Homo sapiens: one gene and its partners. The protein of the gene in region 1 purifies or fractionates together with the protein of each later gene. This does not show direct contact. Each region holds a gene or a part of one and is shown in the gene's direction. Other genes may lie near its edges. The genes, in order: LRRN4CL, SFXN2, SLCO4A1, SOAT1, ARL8B, CTNNA2 and NFXL1.

Region 1 (4,502 bases):
CTGTCCGAGGAGGAGAAACCAGATCAGCAGCCCCTGAGCGGAGAAGAGGAGCTAGAGCCTGAGGCCAGTGATGGTGAGGGGCATCCTGCAGCGTGACCTGGGTGGGGCCCCCGGTTAATCTAATATCCCATTTGAGATTTTGTTTTTCCCTTTCCTGGCCCAGGTTCAGGCTCCTGGGAAGATGCAGCTTTGCTGACGGAGGCCAACCTGCCTGCTCCTGCTCCTGCTTCTGCTTCTGCCCCTGTCCTAGAGACTCTGGGCAGCTCTGAACCTGCTGGGGGTGCTCTCCGACAGCGCCCCACCTGCTCTAGTTCCTGAAGAAAAGGGGCAGACTCCTCACATTCCAGCACTTTCCCACCTGACTCCTCTCCCCTCGTTTTTCCTTCAATAAACTATTTTGTGTCAGCTTCTTCCTTGACTCTGAAATGGGTTCAGGGCCATTTGAACACCCTGTGTCCCCCATGCATCTCTCACTTTCCGCCATTAGAGGGGAGGTCTTCTTGTCCAGGGGAAGGCCTCCAGACCTGGGCTATTTTAAGCACAGATGTTTCCATTCATAAGCCTAGGAAGTCCAAGGAGGGAGAAGCTATCCTGGCCCCTAGCAAGCTTTCCCACTCCCTGCATGTGACTTTCATCTCCCCCAGAGGAGGGGGATGGTGTAGGGCAGGTCTGCAGAGCTGGGAGACATCATTCTGGCCCCCTCTACACCCCTCCCTTCCTCCCTTCCTCCCTTTCTCTGTCCATTGGGAGGCAGAAGACAGGAAATGACTGCCATGGATGTGGTAGGATTTTTACCAAAACAGCATTTTGCGGCTCAGGCCCGTGCTGTTCGCAGCTGTTTTCCTCTAATATCAGCCAGGTGGCCGCCTTCTATGTTCCCCTCCCCATCCCGTTGTATGACTTCAGCCTTCGGATTCTAAGCTCCTGGCTGCTTTCCACATTCCACTCCCCTTCCAGAACCCAGGCATCCTGGGCTCCAGCTGAAACCATTGCATGTGGCTTTCCCCATCCCTGGCCCCGTGACTCAGTCCCTCTGAAGGGAGCAGCCCTCTTTTTTGGCAATCACCAGGGAGGTGGGGGGAGGAGGAGGGGAGCTAGGTGGTGACATCACAGTCGAAGGTTATAAAAGCTTCCAGCCAAACGGCATTGAAGTTGAAGATACAACCTGACAGCACAGCCTGAGATCTTGGGGATCCCTCAGCCTAACACCCACAGACGTCAGCTGGTGGATTCCCGCTGCATCAAGGCCTACCCACTGGTGAGGAGCTGCTATGGGCCAGAGAGGAGGAGGGAGGCATGCAGGGGCCAGGACTCCTTGGACAGGATTTGCACAGATAGCAGGTGGGGAGGGAGGATTCCAGCGTCCCTATTTTTTTCTCTTGTTTTCAAAAAATACAGCTGTGCTTACAATATTTCTCCATTCTGTTCTCTTTTCTCAACTCTGTCTCCTTTCTGGGTTTTTGCCTGTGTCACTGACGGATACATGTTTTTGTTGAGTTGAGGTCTCACTCTTGTCACCCAGGCTGGAGTGTTGTGGGGCGATCATGGTTCACTGCAGCCTTGAACTCCTGGGCTCAAGTGATCCTCCTGAGTAGCAGGGACCACAGGCATGTGCAGTATATTTTTAATGTTTTTTAACTTTTTAATAATTTTTAAATACTTTTTAATTTTTGTAGAGATGGGGTCTCTCTGTGTTGCCCCAGCTGGTTTGGAATCCTGGCCTCAAGCAATCCTCTTGCCTTGACTTCCCCAAAGTGTTGGGATTATAGGCATCAGCCTAGGGGCCCGGCTTTGTTACTTGTTTTGCTTAGATCTTTTCTCTGGGTGGCAGCTAGTAAATATCCTACCGTTCTTCCCTGGGCTAAGTAAATCATGTCCTCCTCTTCTCTCCCTCAGCACTTTGTTTATTCATTAACTGTTTCTAATACTTAACACATGCTGATCATGCATCTGTCTCATGTGTCAGATCATGTTTTATTTTTTGTCTGAAACCAAGCACACAGCCTGGACTCAGAAGTTGGTTGACAAATGAGTGTGTCTGCCTCATTCCAACTTCTTTCCTCTTCTGATCCCCAGTTGCATTTTCCTGTCTCCAGAGATTGTGTCCAGGCAGAGGGCATGGCAGGCTTTTGGGCTGAACAGGCTTTATCTATCCACCCCTTCCCTTCCAGTCTCCATGCTGGGCTCTCCCTGCCTTCTGTGGCTCCTGGCCGTGACCTTCTTGGTTCCCAGAGCTCAGCCCTTGGCCCCTCAAGACTTTGAAGAAGAGGAGGCAGATGAGACTGAGACGGCGTGGCCGCCTTTGCCGGCTGTCCCCTGCGACTACGACCACTGCCGACACCTGCAGGTGCCCTGCAAGGAGCTACAGAGGGTCGGGCCGGCGGCCTGCCTGTGCCCAGGACTCTCCAGCCCCGCCCAGCCGCCCGACCCGCCGCGCATGGGAGAAGTGCGCATTGCGGCCGAAGAGGGCCGCGCAGTGGTCCACTGGTGTGCCCCCTTCTCCCCGGTCCTCCACTACTGGCTGCTGCTTTGGGACGGCAGCGAGGCTGCGCAGAAGGGGCCCCCGCTGAACGCTACGGTCCGCAGAGCCGAACTGAAGGGGCTGAAGCCAGGGGGCATTTATGTCGTTTGCGTAGTGGCCGCTAACGAGGCCGGGGCAAGCCGCGTGCCCCAGGCTGGAGGAGAGGGCCTCGAGGGGGCCGACATCCCTGCCTTCGGGCCTTGCAGCCGCCTTGCGGTGCCGCCCAACCCCCGCACTCTGGTCCACGCGGCCGTCGGGGTGGGCACGGCCCTGGCCCTGCTAAGCTGTGCCGCCCTGGTGTGGCACTTCTGCCTGCGCGATCGCTGGGGCTGCCCGCGCCGAGCCGCCGCCCGAGCCGCAGGGGCGCTCTGAAAGGGGCCTGGGGGCATCTCGGGCACAGACAGCCCCACCTGGGGCGCTCAGCCTGGCCCCCGGGAAAGAGGAAAACCCGCTGCCTCCAGGGAGGGCTGGACGGCGAGCTGGGAGCCAGCCCCAGGCTCCAGGGCCACGGCGGAGTCATGGTTCTCAGGACTGAGCGCTTGTTTAGGTCCGGTACTTGGCGCTTTGTTTCCTGGCTGAGGTCTGGGAAGGAATAGAAAGGGGCCCCCAATTTTTTTTTAAGCGGCCAGATAATAAATAATGTAACCTTTGCGGTTTAAGAGGATAAAATGGAGGATATTATTATGTGGGTATTTATATGACCTTTGTAACCATTTAAAAATGTAAAAACGACCTGACTTAGTAATGCGAACCTATAGTAGCAGCTACTCCAGAGGCTGAAATGGGAGGATCTCTTGAGCCCAGGAGTTGGAGTCCAGTCCAGCCAGGGCAACACAGCCAGACGCCCTTGTTTTTTATTTTGTTTTGTTTTGGTTTTTTGTTTTTTGAGGAGTTTCCCTCTGTCACACAAGCTGGAGGGCAATGGCGCCATCTCAGCTCACTGCAACGTCCACCTCCTGGGTTCAAGCGATTCTCCTGCCTCAGCATCCTAATTAGTTGGGATTACAGGCGCCCACCACCATGCCCGGCTAATTTTTGTGTTTTTTTAGTAGAGACGGGGTTTCACCATGTTGTCAGGCTGGTCTCAAACTCCTGACCTCAGGTACTCCACCCGCCTTGGTCTCTCAAAGTGCTGGGATTACAGGCATAAGCCACTGTGCCCAGGCAGACCCCCTTCTTTAAAGATGTAAAACCCGGCCGGGCGCGGTGGCTCACGCCTGTAATCCCAGCACTTTGGGAGGCTGAGGCGGGCAGATCACGAAGTCAGGAGATCGAGACCATCCTGGCTAACACGGTGAAACCCCGTCTCTACTAAAAATACAAAAATTAGCCGGGCATGGTGGTGGGTACCTGTAGTCCCAGCTACTCCGGAGGCTGAGGCAGGAGAATGGCGTGAACCCGGGAGGCGGATCTTGCAGTGAGCGGAGATTGCACCACTGCACTCCAGCCTGGGTGACAGAGCAAGACTCCCTCTCAAAAGAAAAAGAAAAAAGATGTAAAAACCATTCTTAGTTTGTGGGCCTTACAAATCAGGCCACTGGCCCATTGCTTGTAGTTAGTTGATCCATGTCATGCACCCTAAAAATGGCTCTGTCACTGTGAGTGGCTTCAGTAGGATTTTGAGAATAAGTTTATATTCTTGCTAGGTAAAACAAAACAAAAACGACAGTAATACCAAGGAATCTCCCCCCCCTTTTACCCTCCATTTGTGTTTATTGCATATCCACTATAACAACATTAAAGGACCTTTAAAAGGAAGTAATTTTTATTGTTTATGATTCCTTTCAAGTCACTGTCCACACACCCATTTTTCAGAGTAATATACATACTTTTGATTTTTTTTTTGTTTTTGAGATGGAGTCTCACTCTGTTGCCCAGGCTAGAGTGCAGTGGCACGATCTCAGCTCACTGCAATCTCCGCCTCCTGGGTTCAACTGATTTTCCTGCCTCAGCTTCCCAAGTAGCTGGGACTACAGGCGTG
Region 2 (4,048 bases), on another chromosome or scaffold:
CTAGGTATCACTCTGGATATTTGTCATGTGTCAACTTGGCTAAGCTAAGCAAGACTCCCGGGATTCCCTCTCTGGTATATTCCAGTTATAGTGGCTACCCAGGAGCACACACACACCATCTTCCAGCTCTTCAGACAAACAGTAATCTAGGTGCTGCTGTGAGGGGATTTTGCAGACCTAATTAAATTCCTCAATTGTTTGGCTTTAAGTTAATCAAAAGGGAGATTATCCTGGGTGGCCTGACCTAATCAGGTGGAAGCCCTTTAAAGGAGGGCTAGAACACCCCTGAACCCCCTCTGAGGTTCTGGACTCTGAGCCATTACCCGCGTTGCTCCCTCTCCCCTGGGATGGTCTGTTGCTGGCCGCCTGCCCTGCTGACTTCAGGATTGCCTAGCCAACAGCCACAGTTATGTGAGCCAATTCGCTAATTCCTTGTGATAAATCAATTTCTATATTTTATCAATATTATATTACGTCAGCATTATATATATTTAGGCCAGGAGTGGTGCATGCCTGTAATCCCAGCACTTAGGGAGGATGAGATGGGAGGATTCCTTGAGCCCAGGAGTTTGAGATTACAGTGAGCTATGATTGCACCACTCCACTCTACCCTGGGCAACCAGCTGAGACCCTGCCTAAAAAAAGAAGAAAAAATTATAAAATCTATATAGATAGATCAACATATATTTATAACATATAAAGTTATATATTTATATATGATTTTATATAGCTATATGAATTATTTATGTTTATATATTATTTTTATATGTTATATTTAAACGTAATTCATGTCTATATAAATAAATGTATATATAAATTTATATATTATAAATATATGTTGCTATATCTATAAATTTAAAAAATTATATATTTATATAGTTATATAATTTATATATTTAGAAAATATATATTATAGTATACAAATATATTTTAGAAATATATAAAATATGTATATGTGTGTGTCATAGCCAGGTGCAGTGGCACACACCTGTAATCCTGGCACTTTGGGAGGCCAAGGCAGGCAGATTGCTTGAGCTCAGGAGTTAGAGGAACTCCATGTTGCCCCATGTTATGTTTTGGTATCTACCTGTCTGTCTGTCTGTAATCTACTGATTCTGCTTCTCTGGTTGAACCTTGACTGATAAAATGTTCCTCTTATACCTATTGCTTAGCAGACCTTAACATTCCGCTTCTTTGAAAGATTCTCTCCTGTTGGTCTCTCCTCTGAGTGCACGTGGGTTCATTTGAGCCCTACCTCTTCTTGCCTGGATTACTGGGGTTCTCGTCCAGCTGGTCTCCCTGCATCCCGTGAGGTCCATCCACATCCTGTTTATTCTCATGACTACCCAGTTTGTTCTTAGTAAACTACATATCTGATCTTGTCACTCTTCTTCTTAAAGTCTTTCAATGACTCCCTGAAGCTTTCAGGCAAACATTTAAAAGCGTCAGCTTTTTTTGTATGACTCCATTTTCTCTCCTCTCTTAGCATATCAATTATACTTCTTTTGAAAACCTTTTTAGTGGTTGCCCAGGAGTCTGCAATGTACATTTATGACTAATCCAAATCCACTTTCAAATAACACTATACCACTGCATGGAGTGTGCAAGTACCTTAGAATGGAGTCCTCCCAATTCTCCCCTCCTGTCCTTGATATTACTGCTGTCATGGATTTCTCTGATCCATAAACTGTAATCACCAAATACATTGTTGCTACTATTGTTTTAAACAAACGTATCTGTTTGTTAACTGTTAACAGTTCAGAATAAGAGAAATAAAGATTTTTATTTGTTTGTTTGTTAGTGTTTTTTCCCAGACAGGGTCTCACTCTGTCGTGCAGGCTGGAGTGCAGTGGCACGATCACAGTTCACTGCAGGCTTAGCCTTAGCCTCCCAGACTCAAGCAGTCCCCGCACCTCAGCCTCCCAAGTAGCTGGGACCACAGGCACATGCAACCACGCCTGGCTATGTTTTTTTCTTTTTTAATTTTTATAGAGACAGGGTCTCACTCTGTTGCCCAGACTGGTCTCAAACTCCTGGGCTCAAGCGATGCTCCTGCCTTGGCCTGCCAAAGTGCTGGGATTATAGGTGTGAACCATCCCACCTGACCAGAAGAACTTCTTTTAACATCTTGTAAGTCAGGTCTGCCAGTGACAAATTTCCTGTTTTGTTTGTCCAAGAAAGTCCTTTTTTTTTTTTTTTTTTTTTTTTGAGACAGGGTCTTACTCTGTCACCCAGGCTGGAGTGCAGTGGCTTGATCTTGGCTCACTGCAGCCTCCGCCTCCTGGGCTCAAGCATTCCTCCCACATCAGCCTCCCCAGTAGCTGGGACTGCAGGTGTGCACCACCACACCTGGCTAATTTTTCTATTTTTTGGTAGAAAAAAAAATACAAAATGAGGTTTCACCATGTTGGCCAGGCTGGTCTCAAACTTTTGACCTCAGGTGGTCCACCGGCCTTGGCCTCCAAAGTGCTGAGATTACAGATGTGAGCTACCATGCCTGGCCGACTAGAAAGTTTTGTTTTTTTTTTTTGACAGAGTCTCACTCTGTCACCCAGGCTTGAGTGCAGTGGCGTGATCTCGGCTCACTGCAACCTCTGCTGCCCAGGTACAAGCGATTCTCCTGCCTCAGCCTCCCGAATTGCTGAGATAACGGGCACCTGCCACTGCGCCCGGCTAATTTTTGTATTTTTAGTAGAGATGGGGTTTCACCGTCTTGGTCAGGCTGGTCTCAAACTCCCGACCTCAGGTGATCCAACCGCCTCGGCCTCCCAAAGTGTTGGGATTACAGGTGTGAGCCACTGCGCCTGGCCCCAACTAGAAATGTTTTAAGGGATATAAAGCAGTTAGTACTTGAGATGATTCTTCTGTAAGATATGGGATAGGTGGAAATGGGTAACGACTAACAGAATCAGATGGTATGCATCCCCAAATAGTAATTCCAATGATCTAGGAAGACCAACATTCCCACACCATCCCTACCACCACAGACTCAGTGTTTCTCAATGAGAGACAGAATTTGTGTATGGAGGATCTGAGTCCAAGCCCTTCTATTAGTATAATTGCATTAATATTATTTGTTTCTTTTTTTTGTTTTAACTTTTACTTTAGATTCAGGGGTACACGTGCAGGTTTGTTACATAGGTAAACTTGTGTCACTGGGGTTGTACAGATTGTTTCATCACCCAGCTACTAAGTTTAGTACCCATTAGTTATTTTTTCTGATCCTCTCCCTCCTCCCACCCTTCACCCTCAAGTGAGCCCCAGTGGGGTCTGTTGCTCCCGTTTTTGTGTCCATGTGTTCTTATCATTTAGCTCCCACTTTTAAGTGAGATATTTGGTTTTCTTACTTATAAATGTGATATTTGGTTTTCTGTTCCTGCATTAGTTTGCTAAGGATAATGGCCTCCATCTTCATCCATGTCCCTGCAAAGGACGTGATCTCGTTCTTTTTTGTGGCTGCATAGTATTCCATGGTGTACATATACCACATTTTCTTTATCCAGTCTGCCATGGATGGGCCTTTTGCATTTGGACAATTTCTACTGACACGTGTTCAGGCTCACTGATTCTTTCCCTGGCCATGTCCAGTCTACTGATGAGTCCATCCAAGACTTTCTTCATCTTTGTTACAGTATTTTTGATTTCCAACATTTCCTTTTGATTCTTTCTTAAGAGTTTCCGGCTGGACGTGGTGGCTCACGCCTGTAATCCCAGCACTTTGGGAGGCCGAGGTGGGCGGATCACGAGGTCAGGAGATCGAGACCATCCTGGCTAACATGGTGAAACCCCATCTCTACTAAAAATACAAAAAATAGCTGGGCATGGTGGTGCACGCCTGTAGTCTCAGCTACTTGGGAGGCTGAGGCAGGAGAACCACTTGAACACGGGAGGCAGAGGTTGAAGTGAGCCGAGATCGTGCCATTGTACTCCAGCCTGGTGGCAGAGCAAGACTCCGTCTCAAAAAAAAAAAGATTTTCCATCACTGCTTATGTTATTTGTCTGTTCTTGTCTGTTGTCCACTTTTCCCTTCAGAGTCCTTAGAATATTA
Region 3 (4,048 bases), on another chromosome or scaffold:
TCAGATCCTTTGCAGAAGTGCTGCCGAATCCGACCCACTCCCCCTGCCCCCGCCTCCCCCACCCTGCCCCGCCCCACACCCCCCACCCCCGCTCGGCCCCCCTCCCCGTGCCAGCACGTGCAGCTAGGCGGAACCTCTGAGCACTCTCCCGCCTGCGTCAGGCTGTTCCTTGGCCCTGTTGAGGCTCCTTCCCTTCATGTTCTGGCCCAGCCCGGAAATGAGGTCAAGTTTCTGCTATTTATGTGTGTGCGTGTGCACGTGTTTGTGTGTGTGGGTGGACCTTGACCTCCAGGCAGTCCTCAGGGTAGTTCTTGGCTCTGTGTTCCTGCACTAAGAAAAACAATGCGAGGGAAACACACCCACAGGCTGCCTGGGGAGTCTGCGTGGCTCTGAGCCTGGCCTGTCCTCCTCCGGGCCTCTGAGGTTGCTTTCTGTTTCGGCGGCCGGCGGCCGGTGGAGCCCTTGCGCCTCCTCGTCAGTCCCGCCCCGGGGCTCTTGCTCCTCCGGCTTTTCCGCTGACTCCTGGCATTCGAGTTCTTGTGTTACACATGCTCCTGGGACGTCATCCTTGTGACAGCTCGCTTCAGTAGAAAGCCTGTGGCTCGTGGGTGGCCGTGGGTGGCTCTCTGCCCCTTGGGGAGGCGTGGAGCATTGCTCTTACAATATGAATGTCTCTCCTTCCACGCACACTCCCTTTCTGACGCAGCAGGTCCCAAACCAGCCTGGCCTGCCAGCTCGTGGATAGGTGTTGGCATTGTAAATAAACCCCCGGGTGTGGCCGCGGGCACCCAGGGAGCAGGCCCCAGGCATGAATGCTGTGGAATCTCTGCTGTCCGAGGCCTCCAAATACGGCCTCAAACAGCCTCCCGGCAGTGTCCAAGGTCAACAGCGGCTGCACGTGAGTGCCACACGAGCGTGCACGGCTCTTTCAGTAGGTGTCAGAAGGCAGCTGTGACGCAGACGCTTGGCTCTGGGGCCAGACTGCGGGGGCTGCATCCTCATTGCCACCGGCGGGCTGTGTGGCCTCGAGCAAATGACTGACCCCCCTGGGCCTTCTTCCCCTACTGTGAGGCCTGGGACGGTGCCTGGTACACAGCTGGTGCTCAGTGTGCACAGCGGGTGTTAGCACCCTGCCACCCAGCGGGATTCTTCACAGCAGCTGCCCGCCTTCGTCCCAAGGAGCCTGGGGCTGAGGCATCCATTCGCTGAGAGGGCGAGACCTCCGATTCCACAGAGGAGCCCTGTGGGGACCGCGCCTCGGCAGAGGACGTGGCGGGAGGACCCAGAGCCCAGCTTTGGGGGCTCAATCCTGAGATCCCTGTGGCCTTGGGGAAGGGGTGCTGGTACCGCCAGATCTCTCCAGACGTAAAACAAGCCTTGCCTGGACCTGGGGGAGATCCCATGGCCTGCTCCCGGCCTGACCATGCTGGGCCCGGTTTATCTGCCTTCACAGATGAAGTTGCCCCTTTATTAAAAAACAAAACAAAACAAAAAAAGCCAGCAATTTGTCATCCCCAAATGCTGTAGTGTCTGTCAGCATAGGCCTGTCCCGGGGCTGGTTCTCACTGAGGCCCCTGTGTCCCCTCGCAGCCCCATGGCGGATCACCGGCTGCGCCTCCGCTCCCACCCGCCACGCTGACCTTAGAGTTAGTGTGTCTGTTAAGCTCTAACTCTGCCTCAACCCCAAGGTCATCTCTCTGGGCCCTCCTCAGGCCTCTGTCATCTCCCAAATTCGGGGGCATATGTGACACCTGTTTGCCTCCGTGGGGGCTGCTGTAAGAAATGACCACACACCAAAGGGCTTAAAAAATAGTTTATTCCCAGCCAAACACTGCATGTTCTCACTCATAGGTGGAAATTGAACAATGAGAACGCTTGGACACAGGGCAGGGAACATCACACCCCGGGGCCTGCCATGGGGTGGGGGGAGGGGGGAGGGATAGCATTAGGAGATAAACCTAATGTAAATGATGAGTTAATGGGTGCAGCACACCAACATGGCACATGTATACATATGTAACAAACCTGCATGTTGTGCACATGTACCCTAGAACTTAAAGTATAATAATAAAAAAAAATAGTTTATTCCCACCAGCTCCGGAGGCCAGGAACCCAAAGTCCACACAGGCTGTGCTCCCCCTGGGGCTCTGAGGAGGGTCCTTCCTGCCCCCAGTGGCTCCCGGGGCTCCAGGTGGTCCTGAGAGCGCCACGCCCGTCTCTGTCTCTGTCTGCAGGTGGCCTTCTCTGTGTCATCTTCTCCTCTAAAAATGCACCTGTCACCGGGTTTAGGGCCCACCCTAATCCAGGATGATCTCTTCTCAGATCACTTGTCACATCTGCAAAGACGCTTTTTCCAAATAAGGTCATGCGCTCAGGTCCCAGGTGAACGTGACTGCCCGGGGAACACGGGGGGCACCGGTCCGCCCACCCCAGCCCCAGCGCAGGCCCAGTGAGCAGACTCTGTGAGGAGCTGCCAGGAGGATCCTGGGGTATCACCCAGCCCAGGTCCCCACGGGACTGCCTGCTGTCCCTGCATCTCCGTGCATCTCTGCGCGTCGCCGGCTGTGGCTGGAAGGAGACCCCAAGGCCGGATACTTAGGGCTTCGGACTCTGCAGAGCCCTGAGCATGGCTGATGTGGCCCCGGCCTCAGCCTGATGTCAGTGGGCAGCATTTCTCACGCTTTGTGTTTTGGAGCCTCCCAGGTTGTGATGTTTCGTGGGCTGAATAAGCTTCCAGAAGCGCCGGGGTCCCTGTTGAATGTGATACAATGTGGCCCAATATGGACACGCCACCGCCCACCCCACCTTAGCTCCACAGTGAAGACAAAAGACCCCAGACTGTGGACTTAGACAACAGAAACGGGCCCTCTCTTACTGCTGAGGACCAGAAATCAGGGATCATGGTGTCTGCAAGGCCGGCCCCCCTCGGAGGCTGTGAGGGAAGGAGCTACTTCCGGCCTCCCTCCCGGGCAGGGGAATGGTCTGCACATCCACATTCCCTTTTTATAATATGGACACCGGTCAGATTGGATCAGGGCCCACCCAATGTCCCTGTTTAACCTTAGTCACCTCTTTAAAGGCCTGAGTTTCAAAAACTGTCATATTCGGAGGTATTGGGGTCAAGGCTCCAAGACAGCTTCTTTTAGGGGTCACAATTCAGCCATAACAGGAGGTGCCCCAGATGGCAAGCACCTTGAGGTCTGCGAGAAAGACCCTCCCAGGGTGGGGGCGGCACAGGTGTTCTGTATCACAGCAGCCCCGGGAAGGACCCTCCCAGGGTGGGGGCGGCACAGGTGTTCTGTATCACAGCAGCCCCGGGAAGGACCCTCCCAGGGTGGGGGCGGCACAGGTGTTCTGTATCACAGCAGCCCCGGGAAGGACCCTCCCAGGGCGGGGGCGGCACAGGTGTTCCGCATCATAGCAGCCCTGTTTATTCGCCGGTTTATTTCTGACGGGGAAAGCCCTTAAGATGCAGAGAGGCTACAGCCACCTGGGTTCCCCAGAAGGCCTTGGGCAGTAGGGGGGAGCTGTTGCTCCAGGAATTGGTGTGGGGAGTGAGGCGGTGCCCTGTGGAGCCTCGGGATGGTGGGGAACAGGGCTGGTGAGGGCAGTGGGGCAGGGGCAGCGCAGGGTTCAGAAGGAAGGTGGCACGTGGGCACGTTCTCCTGGTAACTGGTCTACATGGCTGCCGACTGCAACTCCTGTTAGCCACAGGCTGACCCAGCAGCGGCCGGAGCTTGGCGGCCGGGGGTGTTTCCGGTGCTGGGGGCTCACGTGGCCCAGGAGGCTGCTTCCAGCTCATTCCTGCACCTCCCAAACTCTGCACGGAGAGGAGCTCCTTCCTCACGCCAAAGGGTGCAGAGAGCTGCCGGGTGTGAACTTAAGGAAGAACAAGGTCAGGCTCCAGGACCAAGGTGGAGTCCATCAGGGCCACTTGGCTGCAAATGGCAGGGGACGTGGCTGACACAGCGAGCGGGGCCAGGGCGGGGTGACCTGGGACCCCAGTGTCTGACTCGGCCTCTGCGTCTCAGCTCCACTCTCCACCGCG
Region 4 (4,048 bases), on another chromosome or scaffold:
CCAGGGAAGAGTCCCTTTTTCCTATGGGAAAAAGTTTTTAACAAAGACCAGCCAAGTTCTATTTTTCTAAGAGGATGGCTTTGTTTTGCATTTTTTTTGCCACATTGGTTAATAAGAGATTATACTAACCATACAGATGTAAATGAGAATTTGTTCTTGTTCTTTAGTTTTGCTAATTACTTAAAGACCTAGTTCTGTGATATGTAAAAGTTGTAGCGTTGTGTTAGGGCCAACCTTTGGGTGCCAGAGGGAAATTTTTTTTGCTCTGGATTGTAAATTCTATCCACAGTTGTGTCCCCTTTCCACCACTGAATCTAAGGGTGATGTGGCAAAGTTCTTTACCTGGAGTAGGCACTCAGTATTTGTGATACAGATTTATGGGCTCTTTTGAAAGCTGTATTAATGGGAACACGGAGGCAGGCTAAAGTTGACATGTCTTTCCAAGTTCATTTGTTTCTCAAATCATTTCTTTTTGTTTTGCTTTCTTAAGATAAGTTAGATGCTTATCACACTGAACATTATGTAATTGCGTGCACAGATTAGATTCTTAAGAAATTCTTTTTCAATCAGTGTGTTGTATAAATAGCTGTCTACTTAGCTTTGTTACCTGGGGGGGAATAGCTTTATGTTACCTGTGACTTTGAACAAGTTTGTTAGCATTTCTGAATCTCCTGCATCTTTAAAAATGGACATGTTAAATGAGATATGTGCTACACCTACTGCACTCAGCACTTTGTTACCTGCTTCCTAAACGCTAGAGATTCCTTCACTGCTAGACCTCTTGAGAGACTAGTCTTATGATCACTGTTTTCACTTCCTCAACTTACTGGCGGTGTACTCCAATATATTTATTTGTCCTTCCTCCTAAAACTGTGCATGTAATCAAATCATAGCTATTAATGTCCCCCAATTGTGAAATATCCCATGTCCTGTCCTTTTCTTTTCTTTTTTGAGACGGAGTCCAGCTCTGTCACCCAGGCTGGAGTGCAGTGGCGCGATCTCGGCTCACTGCAACCTCCGCCTCCTGGGTTCAAGCAATTCTCTGCTTCGGCCTCCCGAGTAGCTGGGATTACAGGCACCTGCCATCACCCCTGGCTAATTTTTTGTATTTTTAGTAGAGACGGGGTTTCATCATCTTGGCCAGGCCAGTCTAGAATTCCTGACCTTGTGATCCACCCGCCTCAGCCTCCCAAAGTGCTGGGATTACAGGCGTGAGCCGGTGCGCTTGTTTAAGAAACAGTGGAAGGCCAAAGTAATGAGTAGAGAAAATGAGACAGCCAAGATCATGCCACTGCACTTCAACCTGGGCGACATGGCATGACTCCGTCTCAAAAAAAAAAAAAAAATGCCGGGCGCGGTGGCTCACACCTGTAATCCCAGCACTTTGGGAGGCCGAGGCAGGCGGATCACCTGAGGTTGGGAGTTCGACACCCCATCTCTACTAAAAATACAAAATTAGCTGGGTGTGGTGGCCTGTAACCCCAGCTGCTCCAGAGGCTGAGGCAGGAGAATCGCTTGAATCCAGGAGGCGGAGGTTGCGGTGAGCTGAGATCGTGCCATTGCACTCCAGTCTGACCAACAAGAGTGAAACTCTGTCTCAAAAAAAAAAAAAGATTGATGGTGTTTAAGGGGGTGGTGGTGAGTGGCAGGCAATGCAGAAGTTACTAGATCATGGTAAGGACTTAGGATGTTTGAAGGGGTTTAAGTTGTGAAGTGACTTGATCTAACTTGAGTGCAATGGTGTGATTGAGGTTCACTGCAACCTCCACCTCCGGGTTCAAGCGATTCTTCTGCCTCAGCCTCCTGAGTAGCTGGGACTACAGGTGCCTGCCACCACACCTGGCTAATTTTTTGTATTTTTAGTAGAGACGAGGTTTCACCGTGCTAGGCTAGCCAGGATGGTCTCGATCTCCTGACCTGGTGATCTGCCCACCTCGGCCTCCCAAAGTGCTGGGATTACAGATGTATTCCACCATGCCCGGCCCTGTTTTAGCTTTTGATGTAAGGTTTCCTCTAGAGTAGCTTGATGGTTGAGGAACCATCTTATTACCAAGGACTCCCTTTTTATATTTCTTCTTTTGGAGACAGGGTTTCACTCTGTTGTCTGGGCTGGAGTGCAGAGGTGCGACCTGTGCTCACTGCAACCTTCGCCTCCTGGGTTCAAGTGATTTTCCTGCCTCAGCCTCCTGAGTAGATGGGATTACAGGTGCTTGCCACCACGCCGGGCTAAATGTTTTTTGGGTAGTTTTAGCCTAGTGTACCTTAAATATGCTCCAAACACTTAATATTAGCCTACAGTTGGGCAAAATTATTGAACACAGACTATTTTACAATAAAGTGTTCATTATCTCATGTAATTTATTGAATACTATACTGAAAGTGAAAAACAGAATAGTTGTATGAGTACTCAAAATATGATTTCCACAGAATGCATGTTGCTTTTGCACCATCATAAAGTTGAAAAATTTTAAATTGAACCATCATAAGTTGGGGACTGTCTTGTGCTTAGAATAATTGGTTACATATTAACTGATACATTTGCTTTCTTTCTTAATGCCTGCCTGTTGTACTCCAGGTACTCCACACTAGATTTGGGGGAGTCTTACAGAAAATACTATGTAATCCCTATCTTTGAGAACTTAAGCCTAATGTAAGAGACAGAGAGTATTGCTCTCTGATTATAGGACAATGTAACATGTGACAGGATGCTCAGTGTAGTGGGACCGCAGAGAGGATGAGATGAGAGGTGGTGGTAAAGGAAACTTCAGAGGGTGAGTTGGAGGCGGTTTAGCGATTAGAGGGCAGGTTGTAGAATCTGATAGTCTTTGTTTTGAATTCTAGTTCTGCTGTTGGAGAATTATTTGATTTGGGACAAGTTAAATCACTTCCCTAAACTCATCTGTAAAATGAGGATAATACTTATCTAAGGTTGTAAAGATTAAATGTAATGTAAAAAGTTTAGCAGCACAGTGCCTAGAGGTACATAATAGGTGCTCATTAAATCAGAACTGTTGGTATTAATTCTATTACTGCTGTAGCTGTGATTCTTTGAAGGCTTGAGTAGGAGTTAGCTACATAAAAAAAGGGCAGAGGAGAAATAGCTTTCTATAGACAGGGAAGAGTATATGGGACACTATGGTGGCCAAAGAATATTTGGAAAATAACAATAGTATCTGTCTTGATTCTGTTGAGATGAAAATAATACATGTAAAACACATAAGCACTAAAAAAAATCAGCTGTTATTATTCTACTTTGAGAAATATTGCATTGTGCTATACTGTTTCATATGGCTTGGGTAATAAACTTTAATCTGGCATTTATTTTTTAATCATTTTGCTATCTTTTTTTTTTTTTTTTTTTTTTTTTTGAGACGGAGTCTTGCTCTGTTGCCCAGGCTGGAGTACAGTGGTGTGATCTCAGCTCACTGCAAGCTCCGCCTCCTGGGTTCATGCCATTCTCCTGCCTCAGCCTCCCGAGTAGCTGGGACTACAGGCGCCTGCCCCCATGCCCAGCTAATTTTTTTTTTTTTTGTATTTTTCGTAGAGATGGGGTTTCACTGTATTAGCCAGGATGGTCTTGATCTCCTGACTTCATGATCTGCCCACCTCAGCCTCCCAAAGTGCTGGGATTACAGGCATGAGCCACCGCACCCGGCTTCATTTTGCTGTCTTTTATGCTTTAAACTTTTGCTATATGCTCTTTAAAAGAGTATCTACTTTAAATTCCCCATCATCTGGCCAGAAAAAAAAAGTCTCTGTTCATCTGGCCAGAAAAAAAAAAATTCCCATTATTCCTTGTAAAATTCCTCTCTTACTGAAACATCTTGGTTCCTTTTGTGTCTTTCTTTTTCTTCCCTGATTTCCTCTACTTTGAGGCTGTCCCTCAAAGTTTAGTTTTCAGTTCTTACTTCTCTCATCATTTCTGATGAAGAGATAGATGCTCTTGTGGCTTCCTCTGTCACTTTTACACAGAATTGGACCATTGTAAGTTGGGCATCGTCTTGTGATTTATTAGCCCTGACTTTTCCCTTAAGTTCCTCTTAATTAG
Region 5 (4,048 bases), on another chromosome or scaffold:
ACCAAGTTCCAGGTACACTGCCTTGCAACTTTGGCTTATAGGAGGGTAAGCATTATGACAGTGACAGCTCCATCTGCCATCACAGAATCACAGCGAGTGCCACGTGTGATCATGGCATTTAAGAAGGCAGGCATGAAAGCATACAGTAGTCCCTCTTATCCATGGTTTTGCTTTCCAGTTTCAGTTACCTATGATCAACCTCTGAAATAATAATGACTCTAAAGCAGAAGAGTACTGTGCCTAATTTATAAATTAAGCTTTATCATAGGTATGTATGTATTGGGAAAAACATAGTGTACATAGGGTTAGGTTCTATCTGTGATGTCAGGCATCCACTGGGGTTCTTGGAACGTATCCCCCAAGGATAAGGAGGGACTACTTACTTTTATTTTTCTACTCTTTCCCCCCCAAGTCAGATTAACTCATAATTATCCAGATCTTAAGAACAATGTGACTTTAGGCAAGTGACTTAAGCTGACTTTGCCTTGTTTTTCTCATCTGAGAAATGAAGATAATGCTACTCATTTCATTGGGTTGTTATAAGGATTAAACTATGCTGATGAATGTTAAGTGCTTAGTATTACGTGTTTGTTAAATTTGTTAAAATAAGTAGAATGATATACTACTAAGTAGTATTTTCTAAACATCTGTTTCCCAAACCTGTAGTCTTAATTAAGCAGCTTCTTGACAGCTCAGACATAAATTCTCAGGTATCTAGTGCCCAGTTGCCAACTGAGTGGTTATAGTTGTTCAACACAAGCTTTGAAAAGTGATGATTAAGATTGGACACTAGGAAAGAAGTAGAAAATACTTCCAGGTCCATAAAGTAATTATTGCACAAAATTCATGCATCAAAGTTAAGCACTTTATTGGCAGAAGAGTTCCAGCATTTTCCTCCTTCATGGCCTATGTTTTTTTTGAGACATGCTCTCACTCTATTGTCTAGGCTGGAGTACAGTGGCACAATCTTGTCTTAAAGTCATATCGTTCTTAAGATCTCAACCTCCACCTCCCAGGCTCAAGCAATCCTCCCACCTCAGCCTCCCTAGTAGCTGGGACTACAGGTGCATATAACCATGCCTGGCTAATTTTTGTATTTGTAGAGAGAAGGTTTTGCCGTGTCACCCAGGCTAGTCTTGAACTCCTGGGCCGCAGCAACCTGCCTGTCTCAGCCTCCCAAAGTGCTGGAATTACAAGCTTGAGCCACTATGCCTGGCCCTAATAACTCTTAGTTTGTTCAACAAATATTTATTGAATATCTTGCTCTACTCAAGAATTTTGGAGTAAAAACTCAAGGACTTGATTAGCTAATTTTCGGTTTTTGCATGTTAGCAGTAGCAGCTGAGTTACAGGAAAGTTGTTAGGGTTGGCCAAGGTAAAGAAAAGAGATAAATGAACCCCTGAGAAAGCTCGGGGGTACCCCAGTATACTGCAGCCCCCTACATTATTTTATTATGAAGTGCTGTAGTTGATGTTCATAATCATAAAACTTTACCTCCAATAGGGAGGGCCCTTGAGTGTTATCTAATTTAGTTTTCTTGTTTTGCAATAGATAAACTGACCCAGAAACATTGAGAACACATTAAATCATGTTCTATAGGTTGTTTGTGGGAAGTTAGCCAAGTGTATATTGCCTTTTAGAAAGCTTTCCATGCAAGCTAGTTGTAAAGTTTGGTACCTAAAAATTTTAGCTACTATTTTTCCTGCCTCTTCATTATGTAAAACACTTAATGATATGAAATAAATGAGCATTATCTCACGTAGATCTCTCCTCAGAGATTAAAGCCTATCACAATAAATATAATTACAATGAAAATATTTAAGAAAAATATAATCACGATTTAGCCATGTGACCTTGGGACTCTACTACCTGTTCTATGAAATGATAATGATAATTGTCCCTCCCTGTATGATGACTAGTTTTTTAAAAATTTTGGTAAAATACATAAAACACAAAGTATCATCTTAGTCATTTTTAAGTGTGCAATTCAGTAGTGTTAAGTACATTCACATTGTGTAACCATCACCACTGTCCACTTCTAGAAATTTGTTATCTTTTCAAACTGAAACTCCATACCCATTAAGCAAATTAATATCTTCTGTCTTTATGAATTTGACTATTTTAGGTACCTCATAAAGTGAAATACAGTGTTTGTGTGTGTGTGTGTGTGTGTGTGTGTGTGTGTGTGTGAGTGTGTGAGACTTCTGGCTCATTTCATTTAGCAAAATGTCTTCATTTCTTTTGAGTGTATATTCAGAAGTTGAATTGCTGGATCATATGATAATTCTATTTTTAGGTTTTTCAGGAACTGCTATACCATTTTTCATAGCAGCTATACCATTTTGCCTTCCTGCCAGCAGTATACAAGAGTTCCTATTTCTCTGCATTCTTTCCAGTGCTTTCTGTTTTTTTTCTTTTCCTCTTAATAGTAGCCATCCTACTGGATGTTAGGTGGTATCTCTTTGTGGGTTTGATTTGCATTTCCCTAATGATTAGTGAGTCGAACGTCTTTTCATGAGTTCATTGGCCATTTATCTTTTATCATGGCTTACTTTTGATATAACTAGTTTAGATAGAATGACTAGATTTTCACATATAATCACATATGTGAAAGTCCTGAGAATTATAATGTCTTATATAAGTGAAAGTAGTGACTATGGCTGTGTTAACATTTTTTCTGAAGTTAATAAAACTCCACTGAACAGTTAAAAGAGGCACAATTCGAGTTCTGTATAGGAAGTTATTTGTACAGTTGGAATTCGTTGTGCTCAAGATTTAAGACAATTTTGGAATACATGTGTATGTGGCTAGCATAAGGCCATAGCAGACAATACTCATGACATTGAGATAAGTAACCAAAAAGAGAACAAAATTGATTACATAAAAGGAAAAACTTCTGTATGACAAAATATTTTATAAGCCTTATTAAAAGACAGACTTGGAAATGCTGTTTAGCAGTGAATTTTAATAGTTACTGTCAGAATAATTTAAATGCTGAAAGTTTTATTTCTGATCTCATCTACTTTGTGGAAATGTACATCTAGGTGAACACATTTAAAAATTTTCGTATGTATTTGTCATATAAAATTCTTTTAGCATAAGGAAATATGTAAAAAATTACATTAGTTTCAAAAATATCTTTTTTAGATGGAAGAATATATCTTTGTTGGGACAAAATAATGCATCTCTTCAAGAATTATGGCCATAAGGAACATGTTCTTAAAGTAGATTGTTACCAATGGTAAAAAAATATTTACTAAAATGGTTACAAATGCAATGTTGATATTAGAAGTTTATGCAGTGTCATTATAAGTGAGTAGCCTAACTTCAAATGTTTTATTTTGTTCAGTCAGGTCAATTCAGTGAAGATATGATACCCACAGTGGGCTTCAACATGAGGAAGGTAACTAAAGGTAACGTCACAATAAAGGTAAGTTATTTCTTGCCGTACGCAATTTAAATTGTTAGCACAGACCCCTAGAAATTTTTCTGTTAAATTTCTGTGTTTTTACTGAAAATTTGCAGTTTTTCAGTAATGAATGTGCATGTTTCAAAAGAATAGGTTTTTTTGTTGTTGTTTTTTTGTTTTTTTTTTGGAAACAGAGTTTTGCTCTTTCACCCAGGCTGGAGTGCAGTGTCGCGATCTCCACTCACTGCAACCTCTACCTCCCGGTTCAAGTGATTCTCCTGCCTCAGCCTCCAAAATAGCTAAGATGACAGGCTTGTGCCACCACACCCAGCTAATTTTTTGTACTTTTAGTAGAGACAGGGTTTCACCATGTTGGTTAGGCTCGTCTCAACTCCTAACCTCAAATGATCTGCCTGCTACGGCCTCCCCAAAGTGCTGGGATTCCAGGCGTGAGCCACCACGCCTGGCCAAGAATAGATTTTTAATCTATTTTGTTTTTCAAAAATCAAATCTATGGCCTGAGCCTTAATGTCCATTTTGCCCAATTATTGTGGTTTACAGAAGCTGTTCACTTTCTCTGTGGCTCATCTAATGAAGTTCCAGATTTAGTCAAGTGCAGGTTTCTTTATGCTTGTTAC
Region 6 (3,663 bases), on another chromosome or scaffold:
TTCTGGTGATGGAAAAATTGAGCTCATTTGATTGACATTTTTAAAAACACAGCGCAACATTAATTTAGCTTAAATAAGGGATATGGAACAAAAAGCAGCCAAAGGAACAGTATCACAGTTGTGTTAGATACAACTTCTGATAACCTCAATACTGCGTGGGACATATTTTGTTAATAAGAAATGATACGAAGCTAAAGTGAATGCCAGTCACGTCAGATGGAAGAACCATAAGATCTACAGTCTCTCAGTTTAAACACTTTCTTAGTCACCTAGCCCCCAGAAGGCTTAATGCAGCTACAGTTCATGAAGTTCATGAATTACAGGCTACACAACAAATAATCTCTCCAACTAGGAACAGCATACTTAAGAACATCTTTGCTTCCTTCAGTTAACTGTAATTGATATATCTCATTAGTTGATGTTACAAGAAGTTTGATGAAAGATCAGACTATGCTCAAACATCCCTGAGGCTGGAATGATATTTGCAGTTCAGCTGTTAATTCTTTTCTTTCACTAGCTCACATGTAGACTCCTGGCTGATGGAGAGTCTAGGAAATGCATTTTTGAGCCTCACCAATCCTGAGCTCAGGATATAGAAATAGTGTATAGATAAATAGGTACTTCCATTGGTTGGGCTATAACATTGAGACATAACCCCAGCATCTGTGATGCAGGCAGTGAAGCAAGAAGGTTGAAGAAGATATTGAATGATCTAGTATACAGTACATACCACACTAACTACTTAAAGACAGAAAAAAGGTAACCCAAAATATTCCTGGCCTAAAAGTCTGGTGATGGGCCTCTAAACCTATTCTCAAGTTGTGACTTGTCTTGGCATTTTTAAAAGCCATCCTATCCAACAAGGTGACAGTACAGATGAGTAGTATCTTTAAAGACTAAAACCTGTGCTAGTTACTGGACCTCTGCATGTATCAGCTCTCTCATTCTAAAAGGGCATGACGATAATGCCTATATTATAGAGTTGTTAACAAGAGCTAAGTGGGAAAATACAAATTTCTCATAATAGTATTTGGCACATAGTAAATACTGAATATTTCATTAATGCATGTATGAGAAGGTCTCACTGAATGCTATGAGATCCTGACATAAGTATCAGTATTTATATAGGAGGTATACTGAGGACCTGTTAATAGTTAAATTGATACTCCAAGCTCAATTAACACCTCATAGAAGCAAGAACACCCATGGATTGTTCTTCTGCCTAAATGACTGTATCCTCACCAACCCTGAGCTCAAGATACAGAAATAGCCTATAGATAGATACTTCCATTTCTTGGGCCATAAAATTGAGAGGTAACCCCTTATAACTTTTTTTCTTTAGTGTCTGCCAAATGCTTGTCCAACATTTGAGTAAATGTCACCATTGCTAATTACCCTAATGTAATAATATGAGATGTTCTACTTTGGAAAACTTTTGTTACCTTGGAATTCCTACCTGCTAAGATGAGGGCTTTGCCATTAGCTGTATTGAGATTTTAAAAACCTTAACTTGTGATAATTTGCTCCTTTTCAGCAATACTATTTATTTGCACAAGGAAAACATTATTTTAACCGTGAAAGTACATCACCATTTTGTGAATTTGGGGCCTCCATTAACCCACATGTATCTCATTCTTTTCCTACTCTAGCTGGACAGTGCCACATCGCTTATCCAGGCAGCTAAAAACCTGATGAATGCTGTTGTCCTCACGGTGAAAGCATCCTATGTGGCCTCAACCAAATACCAGAAGGTCTATGGGACAGCAGCTGTCAACTCACCTGTTGTGTCTTGGAAGATGAAGGCTCCAGAGAAGAAGCCCCTTGTGAAGAGAGAAAAGCCTGAAGAATTCCAGACACGAGTTCGACGAGGTTCTCAGAAGAAACACATTTCGCCTGTACAGGCTTTAAGTGAATTCAAAGCAATGGATTCCTTCTAGGACGATAGGTTTTAACAAGAAAGCTTTTTCTTTCTTTTCTTTCTTTCTTTTTCTTTTTAATTCCATTTTTGTATGCATACCTGCCAGCTCGTATGCCTCTGGCATGGGGAAATTAAGGGAACAGTGTCTGTTTGCATGTAAGATGAGATGAGATCAATACTACTGATCCATCTGTAGCCTGGGAAGGAGACAGGACATTCCTGTACTAAGGTGGCACAGAGCTGTCCTTTGCAACATTCTCATAAAATTGGGCACAGAGTTCGCATTGGCGCAATATTTATGGGAGTGGGAGGGATGGGGAAAATAAACTTAACTCTACAAAAGCAAACTCTAATGCATGCAAGAATCATTAGGTTGGCAGGTATATGCATAAGTGAAAAATCTGGAAGTGTAATGGTAGAACATAAAACTTGTATTGCTTCTGTTTCAGTGCAAAAATGTACTAGCCAATACGCTTAAGTGTGTGGCCCATGAATTGAACAATTTAACCTTGAAGTCTATATCCGTGATATTATGTCGATTTTTAACTGAGGGGAAATTAACTAGTCCAGCCTAAAATGCTTCTTTTAATCTGCATTCTGTTTCCTCTTCTAGTTGTGCCATTACTAGTGATCATGTTTTTTTCCCCCCTTTAATGAAAACAATAAACATCTATTTGAGACAATTAAAATCCTTCTGGGGGCACTGGAAGCACAATACGGTGACCAATCTTGCTTTCATTTTTTTTTCTTTTTAATTTGAACCATGATTTTGCTAGAAATAGAAGGCCCAGTGGTGGAATATTAGAGGGAAGGAAACTGACAACGTGTGAAAGTTAGAGGCAAATACATAGGTGTAGCTTGGAGTGCTGGTATCTAATATACCATTGTATTCACTAACTAACTCAAAATAAACACATTTAATCTTGACATCTCAAGTATGTTTTCTTTTTTAATTTTTTAAGTATGTACTTAATAAAGATTAGAGCATCATCTTCCTGAAAATTCATTAAAAAAATGCATTATGTTTTGGTTTTTAGAGATTAGTAATAAAATTTTAGAGATTAGTAATAAAATAGATGATATCCAAATAATTGTCATTTTTAGAGTTCACATATTTATTTTGTGGTTTGTTTTTCCACTTGTTTTCATTCACTTTCATACTGCATTGAAAATGACAGTCTTTCTTTGTAATAGAAGAGCCAATTAATTTAAAAATATTTTACTCATTTTAGACTTTTTCCTTTTAAGTAAGTTGGAAAAACAGGACCTCTGTCCCATTATTAAAAAGTGGTGATAGTATTTCAACTATGAACTGAGAAATGGAGAAAAAGTCCCCAAATAGTCACCTGAATTCTCCAAACTCCTCTCATTGGAATGATTGCTACAAGTTATCACATTACCATGTCTCCAAAAGGCTTCTAGTAAATATGCATGTTTCTTTCTTAGCAAAGAAGTGATGATAACACAATGGGAGTTATGAACACCTAAGCTTATGTGCAAGATCCCAAAGGGAAGGAGCTATAAGGGAGTTGTGGAAGGAGAAAAAGCTTAATCTAAAATCTTATTTAGAAATGATTCTTCTCAAACCCCTGCTTACTACTACTGGAAAATAACACCACCAAGACTGAGAACATTTCAGTAGAGGAGACACCACGGAAGCCGTACACTGATTTTCAACACTAATCATTAGATCACAGATAACTAGCCTGCTTCATTAATTTGCATAAACATTCAGAGGGTGCCAC
Region 7 (4,048 bases), on another chromosome or scaffold:
GGGCATTAATGAAGCAATTAAGAAGTGATTACTGAATGTGAAAGACTCAACATTTAGACCTTAGATTAATTCACTGCTATTATAGCAGCATTGCCTAGAGAAAGCAAATCAAGTCAGATGAAATAGTTTGGTCATGTAGAGTGAATCAGAAATTTAACATGCTCTGGTTGGGTAGAAGAGTATAGCAGATACAGATGCCTTTTGTGCCTAGAGTCACATCTAGTTGGTTTACTCTGATTTCAGCTGCAGGGAATGCATAGTCTCTGCATGCAGATAGAAACCCACTTTAAACATTTGCTGTGTGTGTGCGTTTTTTCCGCCTCTCAATTTTGTTCTTGGAAATTGACTTAGCTAGTACATGGGTATAGTGCAGAAGCACTGGGGAGTTAAAGCCCCTTGCAGCAACATTGCACCACAGGGAGTTGGTAGGTGAATGCCCCAACCTCCTTTCCATTAGCGAGTGGGGCTGGGCAGTCCAAGGCGTGTTTTACATGGTTTTACAGAGGGTCCCCTGGAGGATTGAGCTTCTGTGGCCCTTAGTGGTAATCAGCTCAACCATATGCCATTCATTGGTTATTTCTTTTTCCCTGTCTAGTCCCCTTACTCCTGCATCCAAGTTCTTAGATACCGCTTTGGGGGTAACCCAAACTAAGAAGTCGGCTGTTTAATGCTGTTGTTAGCTCATGCGATATGCTACATGTCTGATTTTATCAAACAGTTGTAAAATGTTATAAGGAAAGGGGAACTGATTTTTATCAGTTTTATCAAAGTGTTTGGCAGGTTTTAAAAATTAATTTAGTATTATTTCTTAAGCTTTTAAATTATGTATATTCTTGTTTTTTGATTACCTAATTTTTAGAATTTAGCATTAGTTAGGTGTTAGACTAATAGGTTTTATATAACAAAAGGGCTGTGTAGAGATATATGTACATATTTATGTTTAAAGATTCTTTTGTAGTGTTATTTATACTTGGAAATAATCATCCAACAAGAAATTTAAGTACGTAAGTCTACATGGTGTAATGTATAGCTATAAATATGCTTATAGAAAAGACTATAAAGTTACATTTCAGTTATTATAGTATGACCTCATTTTTTAAAAGTATGAAAAAAATATATATATATAAATTTGGAGATTGTCCAGAATGTTAGCAGTAATTATTTCTAGCTGAATGAATCTGTTTGACTAATAATAATTTTCTTCGAAGTATCCTACATTTAAATGCATTTCCCATGAAACAGTTCTTCTGTTATACTGGAAGGAAAGACCTTTTTTCTTTAATCCTTAGGTAGCTCTTGAAAATAGTTTAGTGTGATACTCATTTTAAATTATTTTACAATTAACAAAGAAAAATTAACATATATTAACTTCTGATACATTTGTCTTAGGTTTGGAGCTGTTCGGGATGTTTCTGTATATTTCACATGCCCTGTATCCAGAAGTGGGCTAAAGACAGCCAGTTTCTTGTATCTTCTGTGACTGATGATGATTTTGGAAAGAAAGATTGTCCCTGGCCTTGGTAACTTTTTCTAATTAGTTGGATTATTATTATTATTTTCAGATGGAGTTTTGCTCTTGTCACGCAGGCTGGAGTGCAGTGGCGATCTTGGCTCACTGCAACCTCCACCTCCTGGGTTCAAGAGATTCTCCTGTCTCAGCCTCCTGAGTAGCTGGGATTATAGGCACCTGTCACTATGCCTGGCTAATTTTTTGTATTTTTAGTAGACACAGGGTTTCACCATGTCTGCCAGGCTGGTCTTGAACTCCTGACCTCAGGTGACCCACCCCAAAAAATCCCAAAGTGCCAACTAGGCTGGCACGCCACCACGCCTGGCCTAATTGGATTATTAAATTGTAGAATAAATGAAGATTGTAGATTCTAAGTTGCTTTATTGGTGGTTTCAATATCCATGTTGGGCTTTTAATTAGTCATTTGGTGTGTGAAGATGTGGAATCTTGATAAAGTCTTGTTTTTTTCAATTTGAATTTCTATAACTACTAGTTCCTTTTGATAACTAATAAATCATCCAGACTTAATTTTTCCTGTGCAAAACAATTCCTTAATTATCCTTTGAAAGGACTTTCAATTTTCTTTAGGACTGAGAATCATTCATAATTGTGATCTTCTTGTCCAGAATTCTATGAGTATGCATTATTATTACATTGTACAAGACTATCATTTAATGTATTTTGATTATAAGATTCCCAGTTTTATCCTCCCAAATCTCAAAACTGCAGGTGTATATTATACAATATCATTTTTTTACATTTATTAGTTTTGCTTATTATTGATGATTATTTGATCTGGAGAACTTTTGTTATATTTCCAGAAAGAGTTGGAGAGTAGAATTTTATATCTCTGCTAAGTAAAGACAATAAGAAATTTATTCATATTGGCTGCCCAGAGAGGTAGATTGACTGTCAAAGTAATGAAGCATAAGCTTCATGGGCTCTGTGTGGTCACATTTTGTAACTTTAGTAACTAATTTTATGTTTAAATTTTTTTTTTATTTTAATTTTAATTTTTTTTGAGACAGAGTTTTGCTGTATTGCCCAGGCTGGAGTGCAGTGGTGCGCTCTTGGCTCGCTGTAGCCACTGCTTGTCGGGTTCAAGCGATTCTCCCGTCTCAGCCTCCAGAGTAGGTGGGATTACAGGTGCCTGCCACCATGCCTGGCTAAGTTTTGTATTTTTAGTAGAGATGGGGTTTCACCATGTTGGCCAGGCTGGTCTTGAACTTCTGGCCTCAAGTGATCCACCCACCTTGGCCCCTCAAAGTGCTGAGATTACAGGCATGAGCCACTGCGTCTGGCCAGTGGTGTAGTTTTTAAAAACATTTAGATGTGCTAGTTACTTTTAGAAGAGTATGTAAAAATAATTCTCAGCAATCTGTGAGAGATTTTATTCTCCTGTTACCAGTGGGGATATTGAAGTTAATTGAAGGGAAATGACTTCTGACTCCTCACTCTTAAGTAGTGGAGCCAAAATTTGAAACCTAGGATTTCTTACTTTTAAATTCAGTGCTTTTTCTATTCTTCCACCTGAGTTATCTCTTATGACCTGGCTTTTAGAAATATTATTTTTCTTTTCATTGAATACACACTTTTTGGAAACTGTTTAACATTTCAAAGTATATTTGTTTTGCTCCTGCATATTATTTACTGGTGGTGGAGGAATTTTAGTGTCTAATAGGTACGGAATTAAGCCAGGTTTTAGTTTAGAGATTTAAACCTTATGTATATATTTTTTTACCCTCGCTCTTCTCACTTCTGTTTTAAGTAGTCGTTTTGCCACAGAGGAGGAAAGGATCAGTTAAAAAAAATGTACTGTTAACTTCTAATTTAAAAGGAACAACAGTTTAATCAGCTGTGCCATATACTTTGCATTCCATATTTCATATTTTTTTAAGAAAATAAATGACCATTCTGGTTAAGAACCCATTTTGTTTAATCCTCATCAAGATGGAGCTAGAACTTGGTAAAATGTTAATAATTTTAAGTTATTTTATGGAAATAAAAAATTTAAAATATAGGTTTCTACTAAGATACTGCTTTTTAATGAAGAAGATCTAGCATAATTACATTTCATTGTTGGCATCCCATTATTTAAAATAAAACTCATGCGTTTGCACATATTACCCTCACTGGGCCAGTTCAGTTTCAATGCTGATGGGCAGTGTTAAGGTATGTTGAGTTGCCTATTAGTCATCCATACCCACGCTTATTAAAAATACATATCCCCCTCCACACTAGCTTTTTCTTTTAATAAAAAAAAATTGAACTCTTCCAACAAAGCGCCAGTTACTTATTCCACAGACAGATGAACTTAGTATTTTGTTTTTGATTTTTCATTACAAGAACAAATATCTTTTGGTTATTTTGAGTATTTATGTGGCATTTATTTGGAAACAGAACATGTTCTCGTGACAATGAAAATATTTTGTATATGATACAAAAGAAATTTAAATGTTAATATGAAACTTGTTCTAGCATAATATACTAACTATACTCATTTGGGAGTTAAGGTTAGAGCATCTTTTGAGAATGAAC

Evidence for each region.
Region 2: the proteins of LRRN4CL (region 1) and SFXN2 purify together in Homo sapiens (affinity purification with mass spectrometry; one large-scale study listed by BioGRID and IntAct). This does not show direct contact.
Region 3: the proteins of LRRN4CL (region 1) and SLCO4A1 purify together in Homo sapiens (affinity purification with mass spectrometry; one large-scale study listed by BioGRID and IntAct). This does not show direct contact.
Region 4: the proteins of LRRN4CL (region 1) and SOAT1 purify together in Homo sapiens (affinity purification with mass spectrometry; one large-scale study listed by BioGRID and IntAct). This does not show direct contact.
Region 5: the proteins of LRRN4CL (region 1) and ARL8B purify together in Homo sapiens (affinity purification with mass spectrometry; one large-scale study listed by BioGRID and IntAct). This does not show direct contact.
Region 6: the proteins of LRRN4CL (region 1) and CTNNA2 purify together in Homo sapiens (affinity purification with mass spectrometry; one large-scale study listed by BioGRID and IntAct). This does not show direct contact.
Region 7: the proteins of LRRN4CL (region 1) and NFXL1 purify together in Homo sapiens (affinity purification with mass spectrometry; one large-scale study listed by BioGRID and IntAct). This does not show direct contact.

What each region holds. Positions count from the first base shown.
Region 1 is NC_000011.10:62,686,183-62,690,684, reverse strand, and holds LRRN4CL (LRRN4 C-terminal-like protein precursor), read left to right. Parts: upstream 1-1,154; 5' UTR 1,155-1,258; intron 1,259-2,171; 5' UTR 2,172-2,176; coding exon 2,177-2,893; 3' UTR 2,894-4,279; downstream 4,280-4,502. Other genes in the region: BSCL2 (seipin), read left to right, coding at 1-73, 164-318.
Region 2 is NC_000010.11:102,720,742-102,724,789, forward strand, and holds part of SFXN2 (sideroflexin-2), read left to right. Parts: intron 1-4,048. UniProt on the Homo sapiens protein: Mitochondrial amino-acid transporter that mediates transport of serine into mitochondria. Involved in mitochondrial iron homeostasis by regulating heme biosynthesis.
Region 3 is NC_000020.11:62,651,974-62,656,021, forward strand, and holds part of SLCO4A1 (solute carrier organic anion transporter family member 4A1), read left to right. Parts: exon of another isoform or gene 1-213; intron 214-4,048. UniProt on the Homo sapiens protein: Organic anion antiporter with apparent broad substrate specificity.
Region 4 is NC_000001.11:179,296,404-179,300,451, forward strand, and holds part of SOAT1 (sterol O-acyltransferase 1), read left to right. Parts: intron 1-4,048.
Region 5 is NC_000003.12:5,167,153-5,171,200, forward strand, and holds part of ARL8B (ADP-ribosylation factor-like protein 8B), read left to right. Parts: intron 1-3,350; coding exon 3,351-3,431; intron 3,432-4,048. UniProt on the Homo sapiens protein: Small GTPase which cycles between active GTP-bound and inactive GDP-bound states.
Region 6 is NC_000002.12:80,645,936-80,649,598, forward strand, and holds the end of CTNNA2 (catenin alpha-2), read left to right. Parts: intron 1-1,649; coding exon 1,650-1,937; 3' UTR 1,938-2,845; downstream 2,846-3,663. UniProt on the Homo sapiens protein: May function as a linker between cadherin adhesion receptors and the cytoskeleton to regulate cell-cell adhesion and differentiation in the nervous system. Required for proper regulation of cortical neuronal migration and neurite growth.
Region 7 is NC_000004.12:47,900,665-47,904,712, reverse strand, and holds part of NFXL1 (NF-X1-type zinc finger protein NFXL1), read left to right. Parts: intron 1-1,389; coding exon 1,390-1,520; intron 1,521-4,048.